Homo sapiens: one gene and its partners. The protein of the gene in region 3 interacts with the protein of the main gene of each other region in a pairwise test. Each region holds a gene or a part of one and is shown on either strand. Other genes may lie near its edges. The genes, in order: CDK18, MOS, HOMER3 and CCDC141.

Evidence for each region.
Region 1: the proteins of HOMER3 (region 3) and CDK18 interact in binary tests that used the Homo sapiens proteins (3 or more experiments, as listed by UniProt).
Region 2: the proteins of HOMER3 (region 3) and MOS interact in binary tests that used the Homo sapiens proteins (3 or more experiments, as listed by UniProt).
Region 4: the proteins of HOMER3 (region 3) and CCDC141 interact in binary tests that used the Homo sapiens proteins (3 or more experiments, as listed by UniProt).

Annotation. Positions count from the first base shown.
Region 1 is NC_000001.11:205,500,410-205,507,673, forward strand, and holds the start of CDK18 (cyclin-dependent kinase 18), read left to right. Parts: upstream 1-4,259; 5' UTR 4,260-4,387; exon of another isoform or gene 4,388-4,469; intron 4,470-7,264. UniProt on the Homo sapiens protein: May play a role in signal transduction cascades in terminally differentiated cells.
Region 2 is NC_000008.11:56,112,414-56,117,951, reverse strand, and holds MOS (proto-oncogene serine/threonine-protein kinase mos), read left to right. Parts: upstream 1-3,969; coding exon 3,970-5,010; downstream 5,011-5,538.
Region 3 is NC_000019.10:18,931,197-18,938,225, reverse strand, and holds part of HOMER3 (homer protein homolog 3), read left to right. Parts: intron 1-3,815; coding exon 3,816-3,923; intron 3,924-5,180; coding exon 5,181-5,302; intron 5,303-6,093; coding exon 6,094-6,250; intron 6,251-6,600; coding exon 6,601-6,717; intron 6,718-6,814; coding exon 6,815-6,901; intron 6,902-7,029. UniProt on the Homo sapiens protein: Postsynaptic density scaffolding protein. Binds and cross-links cytoplasmic regions of GRM1, GRM5, ITPR1, DNM3, RYR1, RYR2, SHANK1 and SHANK3.
Region 4 is NC_000002.12:179,047,126-179,054,317, forward strand, and holds the start of CCDC141 (coiled-coil domain-containing protein 141), read right to left. Parts: upstream 3,013-7,192; 5' UTR 2,817-3,012; coding exon 2,715-2,816; intron 282-2,714; coding exon 159-281; intron 1-158. UniProt on the Homo sapiens protein: Plays a critical role in cortical radial and GnRH neurons migration during brain development. Regulates cortical radial migration by negatively controlling the activity of histone deacetylase 6 (HDAC6) and promotes centrosome maturation.

The DNA of each region.
Region 1 (7,264 bases), on a different chromosome or scaffold from region 3:
AAGAATTGGCTCAGTCTAGCCAAGTCCTGCTGTCCCAATGACTCACAGACCTCTAACTAGCTAGGCCATAATGGGTCAGTCCATCTTCAGGTCTCTGCTGCCAATCTCCCTCCTGCCTGCCAAGGGCAGGCTGTTGAGGTGAGTTTCTCTGTTCTCACTTAGCTTCTCATTTCTCATGTCTTTACTTGATTCCTGGAACCCTAAAAAGGGCCCTCTGGACAAACACTAATGATCTCATACACATGCAGGTCGTTCTACAGTGTGCAAAGCACTTTCACAGTCACCTTTGCATTTAGTTCTCCCATCCTGAAAGATAGGTATTCACACTATTCCCCTTTTGCTATAGAGGAAAACAGAGGCCCAGAGAAACAAAGTGATTTCTGCACCTTAGGGGCGGAGTCAAGTCTCCGGCCTCCCAAATGTCCCTGCAGTGCTTTCAGAGACTGTGCCTGCTCGGATATAGGGCCAGAGGGGAAGGGAGCCCCTGACAATGTGCAGAAAAGAGATTCTCTGTTGGCTGAACTCTCCCTGTCTGGATGCTGTGCCTCCCAGGGGAAAGTGGGGCGGGCTTGAACTTTGGTTTTTCAGATGCTATTCAAATGCACTGCCCACACAGTCTGCGAGGGAGAGCTGTTTCCAGCTTCCCTGCTCAGCCCTCAGGCACCCAGGGACGCCTGTCCTATCTGCAGAGCAGTGGCATGTCACTGGCAGCGAGGAGGAGACAGGAGCAGAGTGGGCAGTGGGCTGAGCTGCTGCTGGGGCCACCATTGTCATGCTGCTCAGGCCTGCCAGCATTACACTGCTACATGGCTAGGGTGACCAGGGCCTCCCGGGGATGCCACAGATCCATTAGACTAGCAGAGGGGAAGGGGGCTGCAGGACCCACAGGGGATGGGCCCCAGGGGCTGGGGTGCCAGGGAAACCCCCAGCTGAGGGTCTGTTGTCTGTCCCTCTGCAAGGAGGGAGTTAATGGGCTGCAGAAAAGAGAAACAGCATTGATTGGGTGCCAAGTTTACATCCTATTGAAACCTCACAACAGCCCCATGAGAGAGGGACTATTACCATCTCCATGTTATGGACAGGAAAGGAAGTCAGATATGTCAGTAACTGCCCAAGGTCACACAGTTTACATGGCTTTAAAGCTCAAAGTATTGCTTGGTAAGGCAGCAGGGAAGGAGCCCCTCCTTAGTGGAAGTCCTAGGTAGTGCTGCTTCTACTGTGTTTGGCTTATTGCAAGATGCACAGAAAGAAAGTTGGCATCGGAGGGCAGGGGACACCAAGGGGTTCAGAGGGAATTTTTGAAATGGTACAGATGAGAAGCAGAAAAATTAGGCTGACCCAAAGAGCACACATACACAGGCCACTGATGTGTATGACTGGGTATCATGGACTCCCTATCCAGCTAGTAAGCCCTGCCCAGGGTCACTCTTATCTGGTTCCCCCCTCCCACCTCCCATCTGCACTTGCCCTTTCCTGGGGTGGCCAAAGCTTGTTGTGCCATTCTCTGGGCTCCATATAGATGCCCACCTGCAGTTCATCCTCTTCCTTCAACCCTGAGAACCAAGACGATGCTTCAAAACTGAAGCTTTCAGAGATTCTGAAGCAATCCCATGTGGTGGTGGTGGGGCAGGGGGTGATGTGACAGGCTCTGAGCAGGTGGCTGGCCCTACATCATTTCAGCTGTCATCTCTCCTCTGTGGAGCTGTCCCAAATTCTCTTGGGCAGAGTTAAGGGCTTCTTCCTCTGCTCAGCCCATATTGCCTTGGTAGGTGACTGCCTCTGCATATCTTTCTCCACCTGAACAGTGAACTACATGAGAATAGGAACTGAGACTTAAAATCATCTATCCAATGCAAGGATCCAGTATAGTCCTTGTCACATAGCAGGTGTTCAATAAATGTTTGTTGAATGCATGAATGATGGTAATTATATTTACTATCTATTGAGTTCTCCATTATGAGCCAAGTCCTATGCCAGGCCCTTAGCATACATTACCCTAATATGTACAACAACCATACAAGATTGATTTTAGCAACTTTGTTCTACAGATGGCCTCAGAAAGCTTAGTTCGCTTGCCCAAGTTCACAGAGCAATCTAAGGAGGTGCTGGGAATCAAGGCTCACTTAAGAAGCTCCAAGGTCCCACTCAGCCTATCACATCAGTGCTTCTAATCTTGACACTGTTGGCTCCCTTATCTTCTAGAATCCAATAGTCACAAGGCTCCATGACCCTGTCTCCTACCTATCTCTCAAATCAGTTCCCTCCTCTCCTCCCTGCTGCCGCTGTGTGGTCTAAGCTCATTCTCATTTTCCACTAGGATCAGCCTCCACGTTGGGGGTCTTCAGGACCCAGCACCTGCCTGCCTCTACAGTGTCACCTCCACCCCAGACTTTAAGTTCTGACCTCATGGAACTGTGGGTCCATATTCTGTCACCCCTGCACTCTGCACAAGGGATTACCCCTCCTGGAAAAAACAGGGAAAATCCTTCCTCCTCTCTCTTGTCCCCTCATCCTGTAACCCTCACCTCAAGCAGAATAGCTCCTCCCAGGCATCCGTAACACTAAGCCTCCTCCTATAGCATCCTAACTGTTTGCTTCCCTGCCGCATTACACCAAGAGCTTCTTGAAGGCAGGGACTGGGTTATACTCATCTTATGTGCCCAGAGCCCTGGCTATCATTTGGCACATAAGAGATGTTGAGAAAGTGTTTGTGGAGACCTCTTGACTTCACCCCCCTAGTTCCTTGAAATTCTACCCTTTGGCCCCACTCTCTCTAATCCGCCAGTAAACAGTTCCTTGGCCATAGTCCTTCTCCCTTTCCCTCCCTGCCCCTTCCAAACCTCTTTATGGCCTCCTGCTCCCCAGGCTTCTCACCATCCACTGGACTACAGAGCCAGGAGGTTGCTGCACACCTAAAGGCTCTGGATCCATGCACCCCGACAACACTTGGCAGTTTCATTTTTAGGAAGTGCTGTGCCCAGGAAATCTGCATGCCTTGGCAGAGAAAGCGAGGTAAAAAAAAAAAAAAGAGTTGGGAGGCCCTCTGTGAGATGTCAACTACCCACAGGTCACTTTCATGCATGGGCCCAGTGTCTTCCTTCATTCTCCTGTCTCCAGCTGACAGTGGGACCTCAGGCCCATGTCTTCCAGAAGGAAACTGTTCTATTCTCAACAACTCACAGTCCCCAGGGAAAGGGTTCAGGTAGAAGCACATGTACACTGTGGAGCACCCCCTCCTAAGGAGACTTTCCCTGTGGGAGACCCCAGACTGCAGCAGCCAAGCCCTCTGGTAGGGCAGGGGACACAGACTGCCTTGATGAGGTGCCATAGAGCCAAGGCACACCTCCTCTCCTCACAGCCCTCAGGAGGAAGCAGAGATGAGAGGGGCCTGGCGGTGGGGCACTGTGCCCTTCACCCCCATCCCCAGATTTTTGTTTTGTTTTTTTTTTTGATCCTTGAAGTCAGATGATGTGGGTGCAATGGCCATTGGCCTGAGTTCTAATCATGGCTCGCCATGAACTCTTGTGGCACTTTAGGCCAGTTCAATTGCTTTGCTGGGCCTCAGTTTCCCCTTCTGTAAAATGAGAGTGCCACTAGCTGAACTAGCCATTCTGTAACCCTTCTTGGATGATTCTCAAATATCCTGTGGAGTTTAATTCCAAAAGGACAAGTTGAATTATCCTTCGGGGAGGGAAATGTGAATGATGGCTGGTAACAAGGGCTTCATTCAGGTCCTGGAGAGGTGGGAACTTTGTCCGGAAAGGTAAGTGACAAGTCCCACTGGATAGGGTAGAAGGGGAGCCCGAGGGCTACTATTGTCAAGAAAATGACCACCAAAATCTGTCCATGCACATTCGTTCCTAGGGCGCCAGGTACAGGGAGGTACCTAGGAGAGGTAGGAGCACCGCTTTTAGAGACAGGCAGGCACTCTCAGTGTACCCCTGGCGCCTTGGTGTCCTGGGGTGATCCAGTCCAGAAGGCCTCATCCCCTAGCCAAGGCTCTCAGGGCCGGTTTTAGAAACGAAACAGGAAGAGGCACTTGGACCCTGGTTCCCAGAGTGGGAGAAAGGGGTGGGCACCCGGGCAGAGGGAGCCCTGGGGATTGGTAGCGGCTGTGGGCAGGGCGGGAGGGCCGGGGGCGGAGTCAACTTGTACATGTGAAAAACTCTGGCGGGGGCCGGGCATTTTCCTTCCTCCTCCTCCTCCTCCTCCTCCTCCCTCCTCTTCCCCACCTTCCTCCACTCCCTCCCTTCCCCTCCCCTTCTACCTCCTCCTCGGCCAGCTCAGGTTGCAGCTTCTCTGGGGAACTGCTCACCTTTCCGGAGCAGGGGAAGCTGCCCCGTGCCCGGGAGGGAGCGGGCGCACCGCGGCCCCCAGGACACGCGCTGTGAGTCCCGCGGGCGGTGCGCCTGGGAGGAAGGGGGAGGTCGGAGGAGCGGGCACCGCGGCGCCGGGTATAAGGAGCAAAGGTAAGCGGAACGGCTCTTAAAGGCGCAGTTTTGCTTTTGCCCTGAGGCGAGAGGTTGGAGGGAAATACCGGAGCGGCGAGGGGAGAGCAGAGATCACGAGGCGTGATCTGTGTGATACTGTGTTGTGTGTTGAGGGGTGGGGGGTGCCCTCGAAAGGCCACTCGTAAGTTCCAGGTGCTTGAGAGGGAGGGTTATTTTGCAATCTCAGACCCCGCGCCCCCTTAGGGAGTCTCCATCTGGGATCACTTTGGCCCCTGGGCTCCCGTCTGAACCCTACAAAGCAAAGTTTTCCACCCAGTCCGGAACCAGGCGCTTTCTAAGCTCCCTTCATTCTGGGAAGGGCAAGGGTCAGGAGTCTCCAGGGACCAAAGGACCCGAGAGTGTGGGGCCACATCGCTGCCTTGAAGGGCTTCCTGGGCTCTGGTGAACTTTCCAGAGCGGCAGGCAGGGGGTGGGAGGCCGGAGCCCTGGGAAGAACGTGGAAGGACACGTGAAGCCCTGCAGGTCCCAGTTCTGGGGGAGGCAGGGGTCTGGGGAATGCTGCTGCTTCTCTCTTTCCACCCCGGAAGACCAAAGGGGCAGTGCCCCCCTCCACCCCTCATCAACAGGCGACAGAGGGTTAATGCAGCAGAGGGAAAGGAGGCTGGGTGGGGCCGGGGGGAGTGGGCGGTGACCTGTTGGGCTAAGGAGATGTGCCTTGAGGATTCTGCTGTAGTTGAGGGACACCATCAGGAATCTGAAATCCAAAATCGGGTCTGGACTGGAGGCCTCTGTTTTCGCCCTGTGGGGGGCGGGGATTCCCTGAAGGTGTCTGCAGACCTTGTGCTGGGTGGGAGTTGGGCTGCAGAAACAGTGAGGGGTTTTCTGTGCTGCAGGGTCAGCACCCTCCTAGGCACCAGCCCTGCCTCTCTTCATTCTCTCTGGGCACCTCCCGGCAGTCGGGGTGGGAGGATTGACACTGTGGGAGTGAGAGGCCCTGGAACCTCTTCCGCGCTATCTGCTACTGTCTCCCCTTCTTCCCCACCCCTAGCCCAGCCCTCGGCAGTTCCCCAGCTGTAGCCTGGGCCCTGTGACTCACTAACACCACCGGCTTGCCCCTCCTGTGTCAGCACCCAGTGAGCTTCGGCATGTTCGCGTGGCATTCCCCACCCGGGCATGGGCATGCAGCACATTCCTGGACACGGGCCTGAGAGGATGCCTGGAGCGCCTGGTGGACTGGCACGTCCTCAGAGATCCCCTGCCTTTAGCCTGGCCTTGGGAGGGGCCTGGGAAAACGGTGCTGAGGGTGCTGAGGGTCGGTGGAGTACAGGGCGACACTGGCTCCAGGTCCGGGTTTGCATCCTGAAGGCGTTCCAGAGAGAGGGTCACCTTGCCACAGCAAAGCTGCTATCTCGGGTTACCCTTTCCCAGCCACCTCTTGTGCAGCTGAGGAGGCTGTGGGGCTGACCCCTCCCCCACCCTTAATCTGGGGTGTACCTGACCATTGGGTTCCCAGGACTCTCCCCACTGGGTCCCCAGGACTCTCCCCATACCCTGCCAGGAGAATGGAAGAAGCTCTCCACGCGTGCCAGAAGAAGTTCTTCCCAAACTTATCGGGGGTGCCAGAGGCAGAGTAGACAAGCCTTAGTGGCCACCATTTGTTGAATATCTACTGTGCGCCAAGCAGTGCGTCACAACTTTATGAAGTAGGTATTATTATCATCCCCATTTTACAGGTGAAGAAACTGAGTCTCTGAGAGACCAACTTTTCCAAGGTCACACAGAGGTGGGATCCAGCCCACTTCCGTCTGACCCCAAGCCCCTGCTGTTAACCCCTGCCCCATTGTGGGGAGGTTCCGGCCCACTCTGGAGTTCTCTGGTCTGCGTCAGTCCTCAGGAGAAGAAAGAATGGGGGTGATGCTCCAAATATTGAGGCTCCCATCTGTCTGTCCTGCACTAGGCAGAGCCAGGCTTCTCCATGGGGCACAGGAGAGAGGGCACCAGATCTGAGGAGCAAATAGGTTCTTGGTCTGAGATCTCGTGGGATCAGGTTGCCAGCCCTGCAAACCCCCGCTCAGGTCTAGAGGACATGGAGCTGCCTTTCAGGGTGCATTTGCTTCCTCTACAGACTCGGACTCTGTCCTCTGCCTACTTGGGCCGTCCCGCACTCGGGAATGCGTCCTACACTGTAGGGCAGAGCCCGGCTTGACTCTTCCCGGTTCCTACCCTAACCAAGCCTCTACTTTCTGGGATCACCCTGTTGGGACTTTTGTCCAGCATCTCCATCTACCTGTCCTCTGATTCCTTCTGTTCTTCTCTAACTGAGCTTGAGAACTAAAGGGGAGGGCAAACTTCTGGCCTTGGTGGAATCCAGCTCCAGCATATAGTAGCTATGTGACCTTCCCCTCACTAGCACACTCGTGAATTTCTCCCAGCATCCGTTCCCTCATCTGTAAAATGAGGATCATAATAGAGGGCTGTTATAAGATTTAGGCTGGGTGCGGTGGCTCACGCCTGTAATCCCAGCACTTTGGGAGGCCGAGGTGGACGGATCACGAGGTCAGGAGATCGAGACCATCCTGGCTAACATGGTGAAACCCCATCTCTACTGAAAAAAAAAAAAAAGCACAAAATTAGTCAGGCGTGGTGGCAGGTGCCTGTAGCTACTCGGGAGGCTGAGGCAGGAGAATGGCGTGAACCCGGGAGGCGGAGGTTGTAGTGAGCCGAGATTGCACCGCTGTACTCCAGCCTGGGCGACAGAGCGAGACTCCGTCTCAAAAAAAAAAAAAAAAAAAAAAAAAAAAAATAATGCACAG
Region 2 (5,538 bases), on a different chromosome or scaffold from region 3:
CGGGCACCAGCGCGCCCAAAGCCCGTGCACTAGGAAACGCACAAAAGCACCAGCGGGCGAGCCCGAGGGCGAGCCCACGGGTAGCCAGGAGGCGGCGAGGGCGGCTTGTCTTCCAGAGACTGGGGAATCAAGAAAGGCAGAGCCACCTCCTCGGCCCCAGCGCAGCAAGTGCAGGAGGCAGGGAGGGCGCAGCGCCCCGCCGTCCACGGTACCCGTGGAACCCGGTGCGCGCCCCGGGAGCTGGGGCGGCTCAGGCCCAGCGTGCCCAGAAAGCCAACCACGTTGGTCAGGAGGACGTTCTCCCACTATCCGCGATCCTCAGGCTCTGATTAAAGTCAAATTAAAAGGAGCTATCCGTTCCGGTATCTGTTGTTACTCTTGTGATAAATATGGTGTTTGATACGAAAGTATCTTAATAGTCATGCTGCCAATCAAAGAACAAAACACGTAAAGCCTGTGCGCTAAGAACACGAGAGCATTTCGCTCCTCAGGAGGTGCAGTTTATCTTGTCTCCTTTGTTTCATATATAATTCCAAGGAGAATTCCTTGTTATCAACACATTTTGCTCTTTGCCTTTGGGGGATGACATAGGCATATTGCATTTGATCAGATTAGTGTTAACCTTCCACCCACGTTTTTACTACATGCTGTACCATTAATACAGCAGGATTTTATACCTTTAACCGCAAAATTCAAGAGCAGAAAAATACTCAAATTGTATGTTAGTTTAACATGAAAACGAGTTATTTCAGCCCTGATAGGATACTTTTAAACCAATACTACCTAACAAATATGTTTCTTATTCGTATAAGCCCATACACATGGTTTTTTAAATGAGTTTTATAAATAATAATTAGCATTGAGGCCCTGATCTAAGTATTTGAAACTCTGTTACTCTTCACAACAATCCTGAGATGGGCATATTTTCCTCATTTTGCAGATAAGGAAACAGGCACTGGGATGGTAAGAAACCCAGGCCATCTGGCCCCTAATAGCCTTTTACCACCATGCTAAAGCTTTACCCATTTTTGAGATCCAAAATATTACATAGTGCACACATATTTGGTAACCAAATCAGGATTAAACATTAAAGTTAAGGGCCAAGCACAGTGCCCTGTAATCCTAGCATTTTGGGAAGCTGAGGCGGGCAGATCGCTTGACCTCAGGAGTTCAAGACCAGCCTGGAAAACATGGTGAAACCCCATCTCAACAAAAAAATACAAAAATAGTTGGGTGTGGTGGTGTGTGCCTGTGGTCCCAGCTACTTGGGAGGCTGAGGTGGGAGGATCGCTTGAGCCAAGGAGGCAGAGGTTGCAGTGAACCAAGATCACACCACTGCACTCCAGCCTGGGTGACATAGTGAGACGCTGTCTCAAAAAGAAAAAAGCAAAATTAAAGTAAGAACATAATAAGAAATATGTTTGGCACTGTGTTACGGGGAGAAAAAATCAATAGGGAGATAAATCCTGCTTTCAGGGTAAGTGCAATTTGCTGAGTAAAAGAAATATTTTAAGATACCTTAAAAAAGAAAACAAAGGCTGTTGTAAATTGGATATTCAATTAAATATTCTTGGGCAGATTGGCAGATGATAGATCTAATGAACTTGGGGTTTATAAATACACAGAATGCCACATTTTCACTAATACCTTATGTTTTGGGTAAAGAGTAAAACCAACTTTGAAAATGAATTGTGTATGCAATTATCTTAAAAATAAAGATTATATAATAAGTCACATTATCTTGCATTATGTGTAATATCTAGGGGGTTAAGGCACTCTCATTCTGCTAATATTCACAGCACTCCTATTATATAACCATTTCAGAGCCCTGAATTATAATCCTAACTAGGTGACAGTTACTGAGTAAATTTTGCAATGTAGATTTATTATAGAATATAATTGTATTACTTTTTCTCTATTCATTGGCATCCTTTTATATTTGGGGTTTGACACAATTGCACACAACAATCTTTCTACTAAAATATTCCATAGAGTTGGCCAGGCATGGTGGCTCACGCCTGTAATCCTAGCACTTTGGGAGGCTGAGGCAGGTGGATCACCTGGGGTCAGGAGTTTGAGACCAGCCTGGCCAACATGGTGAAACCCCATCTCTACTAAAAATACAAAAGTTAGCTGGGCATGGTGGCATGCGCCTGTAATCCCAGCTACTCGGGAGGCTGAGGCGGGAGAATCGCTTGAACCCAGGTGGCGGAGGTTGCAGTGAGCGGAGATCGTGCCATTGCACTCCAGCCTGGGCAACAAGAGCGAAACTCTGTCTCAAAAAAAAAAAAAAGATTGAGGCTCAAGCAGGTTAAATATTATACACACACTAGATCACATACTAAGCCACACAGGTTGTATAGAATAGAAATCCTATTCCAGGGCTTCACAGACCTCAAATTGTTTCTGTAAATGGTTCATGTTTATTAATTTACCTTCTCAAAGTCAATATACTTCAAAAACAGAACTGCTATCATTAAAATGTGGTTACACATAACCTAACACATAAGTGCTTTAGAAGAAGGGAACTTTACCATTTGATTTTTTAAAATATAGATCCTAACACTTTTGTGTGTGTGTGTTTTCTCATGAATATGGTAATATTATTGGTCCTTTTTCCAAAGATATGGTATGAAATTAATTTTTTGCTTAGAGTCAGGATCTTGCTCCATCATCCAGCCTGGTGTGCAGTGGCACGATCATAGCTCACTATAGCCTCAAACTCCTCAGTTCAAGTCTCCTCCCGCCCCAGCCTCCAAAGTAGCTAGGACTATAGGAGTGCACCACCACACTCAGCTAACTTTATTATTATTTTTTGTAGAGGCAGGTCTCAAATTCTTGGCCTCAAGTGGCCCTTCCACCTTAGCCTCCCAAAGCACTGGTATTATAGGCATAACTCACTGCACTTGGTAGAAAATTAATTTTCATTATAAAAATCAGAAAGAAAGATCTTATTGTCTGATGGCCAATACCCTGAATTTCATTCCAACTTCTGGTTTTCTACATTATATGTAGGTACCAGTGATTTTGTGCCATTTTTATTTCTTCAGATTTTTCCTCTTCTACAATTCTCCCATATGTGTTATTATTTGAAGCCCTGATCACAGCTCTGAATCATTTCTATTCTTTTGTCTCCCCCAACTCTGGTTCAAAACTTCGGTAACTCATTTGCTACGAAGTCTAGAATCTCTCTTGCAAGTGAGCTGACCGGTTGGGCCAAATCGCCTTGGAAGGGAAGGATTGTTAGGAAGTCAGTATGTTGCTAAGATGTCTTGCTAATTTGCTGTGTAAGCTGCATAGAGTGTCAGGGGATTCTCCTTTCCACTGATGAATTTAGGTGTGTGTTATGACCTGTATCAGTGATTCTATTTGGATTGATTAAGGTTGCAATTTTTTATCCATATGAATGTTGCACCTAGTTTTTCCCTGTAATTGGTTAAACAAATGTCTGCTGTTTGCATTTTAACTCTTAGCCAATACCTGCTGGAAGTGATTTAATGCAGCTGGAGAATGACACTAACAATCATTACAGCCTGCAAAGTGTGAAACAATTTCATTGTGCTTTGTGGTCTCTTTAGTCTGAGGACTGATAATGTGCAGCGGATGAGACTTGAAAAAAACGTATTTTATTATAATTTAAGAAATAATGTAAAAGAGGGGTGAGTTCTGAGGCAGCTCCATGCTGTTTGTCTGGCATGAGCTTGTTTTTATAAGAATTCACTTCAAGTGTGGAAGGGAAATGCTTTCATCTGAAAGGGATAGCTGTGCTTCATTCCGGTTTCTCCCTCCATCTGATAAAAACTCTTGCTGAGTGACAGCACAGATGTAGCTCATTTGGAACAAGTGAAGGAAAAGGAGAAAAGGGATGAGGTGGAGCGAAGGAGTAGTCAGTCATGTTTCCAAAGTCCCGCGGTTTCCCCTAGTCTCTTCATTCACTCCAGCGGCCCTGGTGTCCCCCTGCAAAGTGCGATGCCCTCGCCCCTGGCCCTACGCCCCTACCTCCGGAGCGAGTTTTCCCCATCGGTGGACGCGCGGCCCTGCAGCAGTCCCTCAGAGCTACCTGCGAAGCTGCTTCTGGGGGCCACTCTTCCTCGGGCCCCGCGGCTGCCGCGCCGGCTGGCCTGGTGCTCCATTGACTGGGAGCAGGTGTGCTTGCTGCAGAGGCTGGGAGCTGGAGGGTTTGGCTCGGTGTACAAGGCGACTTACCGCGGTGTTCCTGTGGCCATAAAGCAAGTGAACAAGTGCACCAAGAACCGACTAGCATCTCGGCGGAGTTTCTGGGCTGAGCTCAACGTAGCAAGGCTGCGCCACGATAACATCGTGCGCGTGGTGGCTGCCAGCACGCGCACGCCCGCAGGGTCCAATAGCCTAGGGACCATCATCATGGAGTTCGGTGGCAACGTCACTTTACACCAAGTCATCTATGGCGCCGCCGGCCACCCTGAGGGGGACGCAGGGGAGCCTCACTGCCGCACTGGAGGACAGTTAAGTTTGGGAAAGTGTCTCAAGTACTCACTAGATGTTGTGAACGGCCTGCTCTTCCTCCACTCGCAAAGCATTGTGCACTTGGACCTGAAGCCCGCGAACATCTTGATCAGTGAGCAGGATGTCTGTAAAATTAGTGACTTCGGTTGCTCTGAGAAGTTGGAAGATCTGCTGTGCTTCCAGACACCCTCTTACCCTCTAGGAGGCACATACACCCACCGCGCCCCGGAGCTCCTGAAAGGAGAGGGCGTGACGCCTAAAGCCGACATTTATTCCTTTGCCATCACTCTCTGGCAAATGACTACCAAGCAGGCGCCGTATTCGGGGGAGCGGCAGCACATACTGTACGCGGTGGTGGCCTACGACCTGCGCCCGTCCCTCTCCGCTGCCGTCTTCGAGGACTCGCTCCCCGGGCAGCGCCTTGGGGACGTCATCCAGCGCTGCTGGAGACCCAGCGCGGCGCAGAGGCCGAGCGCGCGGCTGCTTTTGGTGGATCTCACCTCTTTGAAAGCTGAACTCGGCTGACTGAAAACCTGGTCAAGATAAGTTTTTGTCTGATTCTATTTGTTTTTAAAGGAAGTGGAGATGTCGAAGAAAACATATTTGTAGGATGGAGTTTTAGAAAATAAAGTTACTAAAAACTCCTTTAGTCTCCAGTGCTTTTTCTAGGACACATTAGCAAAGCTACAAGTCTAGTACCTGTTGTCTCAGTACTGTTAGTAACTAATCTTATTCATATAGTCATGTGCTTTGCTTTCCATTGCTAGTATTTCATTTATTTAAATTTGTTATTGATAAAAGTTTGTCCAAAATAGAACTCCACTGCAGAAATGTCAAAATTTTCTATAAATCCATATATATCCCATACCTACCACATAAATTCCAACTATTAATGGTGTAGTTGCTCCCACACCAAATCAGTAAAAACTTTTAAAAAAATAAGTAATGCTTTCCTACTACTCCCCCCAGTAAAACTTCTTGTTTGTAATGACCTTCACTCATAAAAGTCATACACTGAGGTACATTTACATTCAAAGGAATTATATCATAAAT
Region 3 (7,029 bases):
TTGAGACTGAAGCCCCTTTAAGCTTCCCCGGTTTGATTCCTAGTTCATTTTTCTGTTTTTTTTTTGAGATAGGCTGCAGTGATCTTGGCTCACGCAACCTCCGCCTCCCGGGTTCAAGCGATTCTCCTGCCTCAGCCTCCTGAGTAGCTGGGACTACAGGAGTCCGCCACCACGCCCAGCTAATTTTTTGTATTTTATTAGAGACAGGGTTTCACCATGTTGGCCAGGCTGGTCTCGAACTCCTGACCTGAAATGATCTGCCTGCCTCGGCCTCCCAAAGTGCTGCAATTACAGGCATGAGCCACTGTACCTGCTCTTGAGTCCTAGTTCTACTGCCTGTAGCTCTAATTTTGGACACACCCTGCTCCTCTTTGGGACATCAAATGGGTGGCTGGGCTGGGCTGGGCACTTTCCCACATGCCCCAGCAATACCTTCATCCTCACCTCCCTGCACCCTGTGCCGTCTCTATACTTCCATTATTATCTTTATCCGTGGTTTTGTTGATGATGAGTGCTTTCACGAAGATCTTCTTCTTTTTTTTTTTTTTTTTTTGGAGATAATGCCTTGCTCTGTCCCCCAGGCTGGAGTGCAGTGGCACGATCTCGGCTCACTGCAACCTCCACCTCCCGGGTTCAAGCGATTCTCCTGCCTCAGCCTCTGGAGTAGCTGGGATTACAGGTGCCCACCACCTCGCCCAGCTAATTTTTGTATTTTTAGTGGAGATGGGATTTTGTTGGCCAGGGTGGTCTTGAACTCCTGACCTCAGATGATCCACCTGCCTCGGCCTCCCAAAGTGCTGGGATTACAGGCATGAGCTACCACACCAGGCTTTCTTTGTTTTCTTCTAGAAGGTTTAGAATTTACCTTTCTTCTTTTTTTTTCCCTCCCTCCCTCCCTTCTTTTTTTTTTTTTTTTTAACAAGATCTTGCTCTGCTGTCCAGGCTGGAGTGAAGCAGTGCAATCATGGCTCACTGCAGCCTCAAACTCCTGGGCACAAGGGATCCTCCCACCTCAGCCTCCTGACTAGCTGAGACTATAGGCGTATGCCACCATGCCTAGCTAATATCTTTAATCTTATTTTTTTTAGAGATAGGATCTCACTATGTTGTCCAGGCTGTTCTTGACTCCTGGCCTCAAGCGAGCCTCTCACTTTGGCCTCCTAAAGTGCTGGGATTACAGGCTTGAGCCACTGCACCCAGACAATTTACTTTTTTTTTTTTTTTTGAGACGGAGTCTCGCTCTGTCGCACAGGCTGGAGTGCAGTGGCGCGATCTTGGCTCACTGCAAGCTCTGCCTCCCAGGTTCACACCATTCTTCTGATTCTTCTGCCTCAGCCTCCCTAGTAGCTGGGACTACAGGCGCCTGCCACCACGCCCTGCTAATTTTTTTTGTATTTTTAATAGAGACGGGGGTTTCACCGTGTTAGCCAGGATGGTCTCGATCTCCTGACCTCGTGATCCACCCACCTTGGCCTCCCAAAGTGCTGGGATTACAGGTGTGAGCCACCGCGCCCGGCCCCAACAATTTACCTTTCTAATTTAGGTCTTTTTTTTTTTTTTGGAGACAGAGTCTAGCTCTGTTGCCAGGCTGGAGTGCAGTGGCCCGATCTCGGCTCACTGCAACCTCTTCTCTCCAGGTTCAAGCAATTCTCCTGCCTCAGCTTCCCAAGTAGTTGGGATTACAGACACACCACACCTGGCTAATTTTTGTATTTTTACAAAATTTTTGTTTTTTTAATTTTTGTATTCTTAGCAGAGACAGGGTTTCACTATGTTGGCCAGGCTGGTCTCAAACTCCTGACTTCAGGTAATCCGCCTGCCTCAGGCTCCCAAAGTGATGGGATTACAGGTGTGAGCCACTGCACCCAGCCTAAAAAATCATTTATTTATTTATTTATTTATTTATTTTTTTGAGACAGAGTTTCACTCTTGTCCCCCAGGCTGGAGTGCAATGGTGCGATCTCGGCTCACCGCAACTTCCGCCTCCCCGGTTCAAGCAATTCTCCTTCCTCAGCCTCCCAAGTAGCTGGGATTACAGTCATGTGCCACCATGCCTGGCTGATTTTGTATTTTTAGTAGACATGGGGTTTCACCATGTTGGTCAGCCTGCTCTTGAACTCCTGACCTCATGATCCACCTGCCTCGGCCTCCCAAAGTGCTGGGATTACAAGCGTGAGCCACCACACATGGCCTTATCTATTTATTTTGAGACAGAGTTTTGCTCTGTCACCCAGGCTGGAGTGCAATGGCACAATCTCAGCTCACTGCAACCTCCACCTCCTGGGCTCAAGCAATTCTCCTGCCTCAGCCTCCCAAGTACTAGGATTACAGGCGCCCACCACCATGCCTGGCTAATTTTTGTGTTTTTAGTAGAGATGGGGTTTCACCATGTTGGCCAGGCTGGTTTCGAACTCCTGACCTCAAATGATCCGCCCGCCTTGGTCTCCCAAAGTGCTGGGATTACAGGTGTGAGCCACCGCACCCGGCCTAAAAAATTATTTTTAAACTAAGGAAATTTATTTTAAAACCGGGGTGGTGGGGGGAAACATATCCTATCCTAACTGGAAAACTGGTATTGCTTTGTCATAAATAGGTGGTAAATGTAAACATGTAAACATTTAATACAACAAAAACAAGAATGAGATGATTACTTTCTCATTGACTTCTGATGTCTCTCAGAGCCTGAGACCTAATCTCTTTGTTATAAAGGAATAATAACAGGTGTTAAAGACAGATTAGCACCCACCTGAGGCTCTCTTTGTTGAAATAGCCCTGATAAAGATTAAAAGGGACCCCACATGTTGGCTCATACCTGTCATTCTCACACTTTGGGAGGCCGAGGTGGGTGGATCACGGGGTCAGGAGTTCGAGACCAGCATGGCCAATATGGTGAAACCCCATCTGTACTAAATACAAAAATTAGCTGGGCGTGGTGGCACGGGCCTGTAGTCCTAGCTACTCGGGAGGTTGAGGCAGAAGACTCGCTTGAACCTGGGAGGCAGAGGTTGCAGTGAGCTGAGATGGTGCCACTGCACTCCAGCCAGGGTGACAAAGCGAGATTCTGTCCCCCCCCAAAAAAAAAAAAAAAAAAGGCTGGGTGCTGTGCCTGTAATCCCACCACTTTGGGAGGCTGAGGCAGGCGGATCACTTCAAGCCGGGAATTTAAGATCAGCCTGGCCAACATGGTAAAACCACATCTCTACTAAAAATATGAAAATTAGCCAGGCATGCTGGTGCATGCCTGTAATCCCAGCTACTCATGAGGCTGAAGCAGAGGCTGCCGTGAGCCAAGATCATGTCACTGCACTCCAGCCTGGGCAACAGAGCAAGACTCCATCTCAAAAAAAAAAAAAACAAAAAACAGGAAAAGGGCCATTCTGGGGAACATGGCTAGACCCCGTCTCTAGAAAAAATTAGCCGGGCATGATGGCACACACCTGTAGTCCCAGCTCCTTGGTGGAGGGGTAAGGTGGAAGGGTCACTTGAGCCAGGGAGGTCAAGGCTGCAGTGAGCCGAGATCATGCCACTGTACTGCAGCCTGGGTGACAAAGTGAGACCCTTTCCTAAAAAGAGGACATGGGAATTCCTTTCCCTTTCTCAATGTGGCCCAATGTATTTAAATGCCACCTCTGTGATCTGATGCCACCTGCCCACCCACCATGGTACATCATTTTTCAAAGTTTCTCTCCTTCTTCCAAGGTGTGTGATAAGGGGATGGGTACGGTTCGAAAGTGGCGGGGCTGTCACTGAGTGATGGTGACCTGTTTGGGAGGATGGGCTGGGGTTTTACTGTCTTTTCCTCCCCACTCCCTTAGTTTGCCGAGAAGTTCCAGGAAGTGAAGGAAGCAGCCAGGCTGGCCAGGGAGAAATCTCAGGATGGCGGGGAGCTCACCAGTCCAGCCCTGGGGCTCGCCTCCCACCAGGTCAGCACTCCCTACTCCCCTATGCCTGCCTGGGCACCTGTGAGTCAGCCAGGCGCTCAACTGATATTGGGGGACCTTGATATTGGGAGACCGGGGCACTCTGCTGGTCGTCAAGACCCAATGCTTCCAGATGACCTAAGGTTAGACCCACAGCAGGGACCACAGAGGAGTGGTGTGGAGTGTGTCATAGAGGGTCTGGACCTTGCCTGGGGCCGGTGGGGTACACCCAGTAGGTCCCAGTAGCAAAACCAGCTCAGATGGCAGGATGGAAGACTAGAAATTGAAATGGCTAAGTGTGGCCGGGTGCGGTGGCTCACGCCTGTAATCCCAGCAATTTGGGAGGCTGAGGAGGGAGGATGACTTGAGGCCAAGAGTTCGAGACCAGCCTGGCCAACATGGTGATACTCCACCTCTGCTAAAAAATACAAAAATTAGCCAGGCGTGGTGGCATGCGCCTGTAGTCCCAGCTACTCGGGAGGCTGAGGCAGGAGAATCGCTTGAACCCAGGAGATGGAGGTTGCAGTGAGCCGAGATCGTGCCACTGCACTCCAGCCTGGGTGACAGAGTGTGACTCTGTCTCAAAAAAAAAAAGAAAGAAAGAAATGGCTAAGTGTGAGGCAGAACAACGAACTGTCCCTGCGTGTTTTCCCACATTAATTTATTCAGCATTATTTATTGAGCACCTGCTGTGTACCAGGCCGAGGGCTGTGCACAGGGGTTGGAGAGATGAAAAAAAGCATGAGCCTCCAGCTGCTGCCTGCACTGGGCTGCGGTGGCGCTGGCCTCTCGCAGGGCACCCGCCAGCTTGTCTACCCTCAGAGCCAGTGGTCCAGGCAGTGGGGTTGCTCACGAAACACGAATTCGGCCTGGGCAGGGCTTCCTGCTGAAATCCTAAACGTGATGTTGAAGTTCGGCCTCAGGGAAGGGAACAGCAGGGAGGTGTCCGATTGTACCCCTCCCCTACCTTACAGGTTCTAAGTATCTTGGTTTAGACTAACCTGCATCAGACTTGCTCCTGGGGGTGGTGAAAGCCCAGGAAGGCAAGGTCGAGGGCGTGGGCATGGAACTCCCAGCTTAGGGGCCACAGGGAGCCATGGAGGGTGGGTGAGGTGGGGAGGGACACACTTGGATCCTGTGCTGTGAAGGACCTGCTTAGGGTGCATAGGTCAATTGCACCCCCGATGTGACGACCCCAGTCACATCAGCCTTGATCCCAGCTGATGTGGGGTCGTGACCTATTCTTTTCCCCGTGCCTAGGTGCCCCCGAGCCCTCTCGTCAGTGCCAACGGCCCCGGCGAGGAAAAACTGTTCCGCAGCCAGAGCGCTGATGCCCCCGGCCCCACAGAGCGCGAGCGGCTAAAGAAGATGTTGTCTGAGGGGTGAGGGGCGGGACTTGGGGGCGTGGCAGGGGCGGGGGTAGGGGTGGGGGACGAGGAGGCGGTTCTTGGAAGCCAAGGGAGTGCCAGGACGGCGGGATCTAACTGTGGACTCAAGACCTGGGGAAGGGGATGAGGATCTGAATGCTGCCCCATCCAGAGCCGACCCCGCCCCTACCCTGCGTTGGCCACGCCCCTCTGTTTTGACCCCATCCCTGTCTCTTCTCGCTGCTAACCTCGCCCCGTCGATGCCTCTCTGGTCTTAGGATAACCACCCTGACCACGCCCCCATCGGCTGACTCTCCCCAACCTCCCATCCCTCCCTCAACATTCCCACAGTGTCACTGGGCGGACTCCACGTGCCCCCTTCTTTGACTCGGTCCTCGACAAGACCCCGCTTCTGCGGGACTGCCCCATCCCCAAGCTCAGCAATCAGTGTCGCCACATCCCCAGCCCTGCGTGGCCCTGACTCCGTGCCCTAGCCCAAAGCCACCCCTCCTCTGGCCCCGCCCCCTAGCCCAGCATCGCCCGTGACTCCGCCTCAGCCCAGCGCCACCCACCCTGGCCCCGCCCCCTAACCGAGCATTGCCGCTGACTCCGCCCCCAGCCCAGTGCCACTCCACCCCTGCCCCGCCCCCTAGTCCAACTTCGCGCACGACTCCGCACCCTCGCCAGCCTTCGCCCTGACCTAAGCCCAGAGCTATCCCACCCCTGGCCCCGCCCCCTAGCCCAGCATCGCCCGACTCCGCCCCCCAGCCCCGTGTCACCCACTGCCGACCCTCGTGTCTCTGCAGCTCCGTGGGCGAGGTACAGTGGGAGGCCGAGTTTTTCGCACTGCAGGACAGCAACAACAAGCTGGCAGGCGCCCTGCGAGAGGCCAACGCCGCCGCAGCCCAGTGGAGGCAGCAGCTGGAGGCTCAGCGTGCAGAGGCCGAGCGGCTGCGGCAGCGGGTGAGGGCACCCCTCCCTCCGAGAGACCCCCACCTGGCCCGGGCAACTGTGGAGACCGCGCCTCGGCAGTTCCCATCTGCCCTGGGTTCATGGACTAGCTGTGTGACCTCAGCAGGTCACTGACCCAGCCTCAGTTTCTTGCTCTGTAAAATGGGTTTGAGACAATGCCAGCCTCAGAGGGTGATCAGACACTAAAGTCCAAGCTGTGCAGAGGGGGGTGGTGGCACCAACCAAGGGAGATGGGTGCTCGGTCCTGGGCGTGGCCAGACAGGAGGCAGATTCCCTAGAGGTTGGGCGAGCAAGGGAGAGTGCAGGCGGGGGCGTCAGGGGCTGCTATTCCTGCCCTACAGGTGGCTGAGCTGGAGGCTCAGGCAGCTTCAGAGGTGACCCCCACCGGTGAGAAGGAGGGGCTGGGCCAGGGCCAGTCGCTGGAACAGCTGGAAGCTCTGGTGCAAACCAAGGACCAGGTGAGTGCCAAGTGTGGTTCCTGGGCCTCGCCTTCCCTCACCTCCTGTGGGAAAGCCAGGACCCCCGCAACAGACCCTGGGAACTCTTCTCCTCTAGGAGATTCAGACCCTGAAGAGTCAGACTGGGGGGCCCCGCGAGGCCCTGGAGGCTGCCGAGCGTGAGGAGACTCAGCAGAAGGTGCAGGTGTGTGTGGGCACAAGGAGGTGGGGTGACGGTGGGTGACAGTCACCTCAACAGACACTCAGGACAATATCTACCTAAGATGATAAAGTATTGGGAGGCCCAGTCCTGTGGAAGGCCTGATGCCCAGC
Region 4 (7,192 bases), on a different chromosome or scaffold from region 3:
TGCTGTTTGTTCATAAATAACTACTGATTTTTCCATTATCTACCTGGTACCATATTAAAGTGGCCCTAGGCCAGTAACAGCAGAGGAATCAAGAAGTATAAGAAATAGTTTTTTATGTCTCTTTAATTTTGTTTCTGCTTCACATCTTAGTATCTTACCTTGAGCTTGGCCAAAAGAAGTTCATGATCATGAAGAAGTTTTTTGGTTTCATCTTGACTGCTGCCAATTTCTAGAAGATTGGGCTGTGATTCAGCCAGTTGAAGTTGTACCCATTTGCCACACTAAAAATAAAAATTAAATAAAATGCACTTTTAGTTCCTCTTGTTCCTTCCTCTTCACCCTTCTCATTTTTAATATATCGTTTAAATTTCCAGTTATACTGTAAACACTTTTTTCTATTTTCTATTTTTTTCCATTCTTTCCATAGAGATGGGGTTTACTTAAATTGAAACACAACAGATCTAATATAAATCCATGCCCTGTCTTTTATTTTTTATTCTTAGCATAAATTATTCTCTCTTGGCATATTGGATTTGAGTTAAAAATTCCCAAGTGAGGAAAACATACAATGGATTACGTATTATTGAATATTATAAAGTTACAGAATAATTTACACAACTGTATCCTCTCTCACTCACAAAACTGAACTCAATAAAAATAGTGAAATTCCACTTGGGCAGGTAGGATGCAAATTTCACCATGGGGAAAGTTCTTGTAAATGCAATTTAGGCTGATTAGTGTCTTTACATTGGCCTTGCTGGTTTAGCTGAAAATAATAAATATCAGATGAAGAAATTGATTTTTATCTTATTTCAAAGGTAAAATATGCTGTTTTCCAACCTTAGTTGTTGAATATTCATTAAAGCGTGTAGGAAAATATTAACAAAATTAGATGCCTGTGACAACTGCCATTTGAGCACAGTCAACTTGCTTTCCACACAAGATTTACACTGCTCTAAGATATAATTTGTCATTGCATTTCCTGAGGAATTGCTTTTCTAAGAAGCAACAACTCATTAAGCAAAATGAACCACTAACACGCATACGCATGTAGATACCTGAATTACTAAAGAGAAATTAGAAAAATGTATTTCTATTTTAGAATATATTCAGTCCCCTGAGACAGTTTGGACAGTCACTATAAATCACACACAGGCACTTCCATTCCATTAAGGTGGACTTTATACTCTGAATTGCTTGGGGTGTATTTTGTATGGAGATGGCAGTAAGGTAAGAGGGCTGAGGAGAGGGTAGTGGGGGAACATTCTTAGAAACACAATTCAGTTAAAATAAGAGTTTCCAGTGTAATTTTCCAGTGTAATTTCCAGTGTAATTTTTTTGTGTTCAATCTACCTCTGATTCTTCTGTAATTTATCCTCTAATATTATTCCTCATCCTGCTCCAAGAATGTTCATATTTGAGGAAATGGAAAGTTAACTTTTTGAAAAATAGTGAGTTTGCCTCTTTTCCCTCATTGCTGAAATCTGCAGTTAACTCAAAGTATCATTAATCCCGTGCAAATGATCTGTTTGCCCTACTTCTGCATCAGGCTTCTTTTCATCTCCTCTCTGGGACTCTGAAAAGATGGGAGGGTGAGGAAGTCAGCAGAGGCCTGGTTCCTGTGGGAGAGAAGTCTCACAACACCAGAAAATCCACCTCGGCAGGAATACTTTCCATTCTGTCCTTCTATAGTGAACTGTTTTGCTCAGTATCAAGTGCTCTTTTCCTGGTATGAATTTTCACATTACCATAAAATTCACAGCAATTAAGTTAAAGTAAACATGGCTTGCTGTCCATGCTCTAACAAAAGGCCAGAAAAGTCATTCAATTAAACCTGGTGGGGACCTGAAAGTAACTGGTTTGTGACCATCAGCTTGTTTGCCAGCTTTCCCTTCATTAAACACTGAATTATTTAGGTGGAATATCATCTAAAGCCCAAGCCTAGTGCTTGAAAGCTTTTTTTTACAGGGCATTTCCATGGAGAATAAAATCATGGAGTTCTTCTTCAGCCTAAAGATGTGTGGTCATCTTTGCAAATGGGCAAATGGGTTGTCATAAAACATGCAGTAATTGTAAACCCTAAGTGGCTTCTACTTCCTGCTGTTAAGAGCAAATTTGACACAAAGCTTTTGTACCTTTCCTTGCATGGTCTTCGTTACTGGACAAGGATTTAGTAGTTTCTTTACCATGTCAAAACCAGTGTGGCAAAGGGCACATGTCGGAGCCCTTTACTTGGTGTTTTCTGAGTTCCATCGTGCTTAAAGCAGTGCCCTCCCCCTGTCTGTCGGGACCTGCCTCCTCCCACCTCCATCACATCCACTCTCAAAAATCACAAGCATTCCACAGGTCCATTGGACTCTTTAGTCAGGCAATCATGAACTTCCAGTTACCAATGCCTTGCTTTTAAAGACCAAATTGACAGTATATGCTAGAGGTTTTCTTTTCTTTATTTTTCTTTCTTTTCTTTTTTTTTTTTTTTTTAAATCAAGCTGCTATAGATGCTTTCTGGCTGACTGAAAGGAAAGAGAATCTCTGGTAACTGCTGAAACTTGTAGAGGTTTCTCTTAGTAGCCCATTTTAGAAAGCAGTAAGAGTGCTTGCTGCGTTGTCTTCTCTATGCTGTGTCCTGCCGATTGCATGGAATGTTCTTTAGGGTTTTCAACACACAGCTAGAAGCCCACAGCCGCACAGAAAAAAGGAAGTTGTTAGCTTACCTTTATGACAGCTATAACGATTTTGGAGTCCCCAGCCTGCACAGCAACTGAACTGACTGTCGTCGTAGAAAGCGCAACACTAGGACTTCCTTGGCTGGACATGGTACTTTAGAACCAGAGTTTATACTTTGGGCAGCCTCTGGACAGTTGTGTGTCTGCTGGTCATTTCAGAAGGCCAGGGTTACTTGGATTCATTCAGGGAAAGAGCTCAGCTCACACTGATTACTCTGCCAAAAGGAAAGAACAGGAGGTTAAAAATAGACAACCCCATTGAGTTTATCGTGAGAGAGAAAGGAGCGAACGAGAGAGAATTGCCACGCCCCTAGTATGGTGACACTAAGTGCCTGTTATTTTTGCTGTTATCTTAAATGTGGAGGACAGCTTCAAGCTCTTTCCTTATCAGCTGATGTTTGATAACAAATGGAAAAAAAAATTACATCCTGACAACCCAAATTAGTTTTGCCACCGAAACTATGCCATTGTAACCATGGACTTTGAAACAAGTAAGTCTTTGACCTGGTTATCAATCTTTTCAAGATTTTTGAAATCTCTCTGATGCAAAGAGAACTACCAAAGTGTACTTTAAAAAAGTTTTGGTATTTGTCTTGGGGTTAAGTCACAAATTGCTTAAAACACATTTTTAGATTAATCTGCTTTTCTAAAACTTACTGTTCTTTGCTAAATGAAGTTTAGATGGAATAGCCACATTTTCTCAGAGCCTCAGATTTCTTAGGAATTTTTAAAAAATATTTCAACCAGCATTTATAAATAGGTGCCTATCATTTCAGATTTTCTTTGTGACTATTCTGCTCCATTGGACAAGGTTTTCAAGTTCAGTTATTAATACCATGAGAAAGCAAAATACTTTGCTGTTACCTTTTAATTGCAGCAAGAAAATGTTTTCTGTGTGGTTAAAAGTTATTAAGACATATATTTTGCTGCAATTAAAAACAAAAACAAAAAGGAAAGTACTGTGCTTCAGGCTTTTTATTCCCTACCCCCACCTCCTGTTCAGGAAAATTATAGCCAGCTTCAAATCAGTGCCCCACATTGGTAGATTAATCCTATTGCTAGAAACTCAGCCTGTGTCACAAGTTGTCTGTGGTATTAAACAGCAGCTGTTGGATTCCCTGTCAAAGAACAGCTGAAAATAACACTAAAGTTTAGGTCAGAAGTCAGATGCAAACATATCAGAGTTACTAACTCCAAAGCTGCTGGAAGCATTGGAAATCTCTGGGACAAAGCCACAACAGAGAATATAGCAAAAAACAGTTTTAATGAATCCACTTGCTCTGTAAACCTTTTAGCCCAATTTAATAGTAGGTTCAGGTTCAGGGCCAATGTTTAGAAGACTGAGTCAGCTCCATTGCTTTGTTTTGCTAAGGTTCATGATCATATTCTTGATTCAAAGGGGAAAAGTACTTTTACACATACTTCAGTGTTCAATTATTTTTGTTTCCAAGAGCATGTCATGGCTGCTCTGCAGCTGTGTAGCCACCACCCATGTCCTCTGCGCTCAGCATCTGCCTGCTGCCCCAGTGAGATGGAAACCATACCTAGATCCTAGTCCCTATGCAACACGAACTTCACCTGACCCCATGAAGGGAACAATTGGAGCGAGCTCAGGAAAGCAGATGCCGAGCAAGCTATGATGTAGCAACTATTGCAAATGGTTTCATTTTATGGCAGGGCTGGAGAGCTTGCAAAGAGGTAACTGACCTGGAAGGTTGCAGGCAGGCTCCTTCTTTCACTTGCATCTGTGTGAAGAGACCACCAAACAGGCTTTGTGTGAGCAATAAAGCTGTTTATTTCACCTGGGTGCAGGTGGGCTGAGTCTGAGAAGAGAGTCAGCGAAAGGAGATAGGGGTGGGGCCGTTTTATGGGATTTGGGTAAGTAAAGGAAAAAGGGGGGTTGTTCTCTGGCAGGCAGGAGTGGGGGGGTCACAAGGTGCTCAGTAGGGGAGCTTTTGAGCCAGGATGAGCCAGGAGAAGGAATTTCACAAGATAATGCCATCAGTTAAGGCAGGAACAGGCTATTTTCATTTCTTTTGTGGTGGAATGTCATCAGTTAAGGCAGGAACTGGCCATCTGGATGTGTACACAGGTCACAGGGGATATGATGGCTTAGCTTGGGCTCAGAGGCCTGACATTCCTTTCTTATATTAATAAGAAAAATAAAACGAAATAGTGGTAAAGTGTTGGGACGGTGAAAATTTTGGGGGATGGTATGGAGAGATGATGGGGGATGTTTCTCAGGGCTGCTTCGAGCGGGATTAGGGGCGTCATGAGAACTTAGAGTGGGAGGGATTAAGCTGAAGGAAGACTTTGTGGTAAGGGGTGACATTATGGGACTGTTAGAAGAAACATTTGTCATTTAGAATTATTGGTGATGGCCTGGATACAGTTTTATATGAATTGAGAAACTAAATGGAATAAGAGAGGGAGAAAAACAGGTATTAAAGGTCTAAGAATTGGGAGGACCTAGGACATCTGATTAGAGAGTGCCTAAGGAGATTCAGCATAGTCCTGCCGGCAAAGATTATTTATTTACTTCAAGAGTTAAGAGTGGCAGTTTGGGGATAGCACCAGGAGATATCAGCTGTGATGGCTTGGAGAAACAATGTAAACCAGCAGTGTAAACAAGAGCAGAGCATGTATAAGTAGTTGAGAATGGTGAATAGGAGTATGACTAGACAGAAGATAGTAGGGATGACAAGATTTTGGGGGCAAAATCTAAGTTGGTCTGGTGTCTGGAATGAGACTGGGGCTAAATAAAAAGGAGCGTCCACACAGGAGCTCAAATGGGCTGTACCTTGTAGCATTCCGAGGACAGGCCTGAATTCTGAGAAAAGAAAGAGGTAAAAGTATTGTCCAGTCCTTTTTAAGTTGGTGGCTGAGCTTAGTGAAGTGTGTTTTTAAAAGACCATTAGTCCGTTCTACTTTTCCTGAAGACTGAGGACTGTAAGGGATATAAAAGTTTCACTGAATACCAAGAGCCTGAAAAACTGCTTGGCTGATTTGACTAATAAAGGCCAGTCTACTATCGGACTGCGTAGAGGTGGGAAGGCCAAACCGAGTAATTGTGTCTGACAGAAGGGAAGAAATGACCGTGGTGGCCTTCTTAGACCCTGTGGGAAAGGTATCTTCCTATCAAGTGAAAGTGTCTACATAGACCAAGAGGTATTTTAGTTTCCTGACTTGGGGCATGTTAAGTAAAGCTAATTTGCTAGTCCTGGGTGGGGGCAAATCTCTGAGCTTGATGTTTAGGGAAGGGAAGGGGCCTGAATAATCCGAGAAGTAGTAGAATAGCAGATGGAACACTGAGATGTTATTTCCTTGAGGATAGATTTCCACGATGGAAAGGAAATGAGAGGTTCTAAGAGGCGGACTAGTGGCTTGTAATATAGGATAGCCTGCCTTTGCTGGTGTGTGGTGATTAGGCCTGGTGGAACTGCCATCAATAAACCAAGTGCGATCAGGGTGAGAAACAGGGAAGAAGGAAATGAGGGGAAATGGGGTGAACATCAGGTGGATCAGAGAGATTCAGTCATGAAGGTCAGGTGTGGTATCAGGAATAATGTGGGAGGCTGGATTGAAGTCCGGGCCATGAACAATGGTAATTGTGGGAGACTCAACAAAGAGTGAGTACAACTGAAGGAGCCGGGGAGCAGAAAGTATATGCATCAGGTGTGAGGAAGAAAATAGATTTTGGAAATTATGAGAGCTGTAGAGAGTGAGTTGAGAATAGTTTGTGATTATAAGGACCTCTAAAAGTATTAGGGTGGCAGCAGCTGCTGCACGGAGACATGATGGCCATCCTAAAACAGTAAGGTCAAGTTGTTTGGACAAAAAGCCTACAGGATGCGATCCCAGTCCTTGTGTAAGAATTCCAACTGCACAGCCCTGCACTTCTGCTGTGTGTAATGAAAAGGGTTGGGATGAGTCAGCAAGAGCTAGGGTGGGGGCAGTCTCTAAAGCTGTCTTCAAGGAATGGAAAGAGGAGTGGAGAAAGGATTTAGGATCTATGGGGTCAGCTAGGTTTCCTTTTGTGAGTTTATATAACGGTTTTGTTAGGATGGCAAAACCAGGTATCCAAAGGTGAAAGTATCCAACTATGCCTAGGAAGGAAAGGAGTTGTTTTGTAGAAGGGATTGGGGTTTGGGAGATTAGCCGGACACTACCAGCAGGGAGAGCACATGTGTTTTTATGAGAATTATGCTGAGATAGGTAACAGATGAGGAAGAAATTTGGGCTTGACTGAAGTAATGGGATCTGTCTGTGCAGCTTTGCGGCAGTACAGCCCAGGTAATTTGCTGAGCTTGATGGGTGTCAGGGTCAGTCCAGGTGAAAGCAAAGAGAGGCTGGGATGAAGGGTGCAAAGGAAGAGTAAAGAAAGCATGTTTGAGATCCAGAACAGAATAATGGATTGTGGAGGGAGCTATTGAGGATAGGAGAGTATATGGGTTTGGCACCGTGGG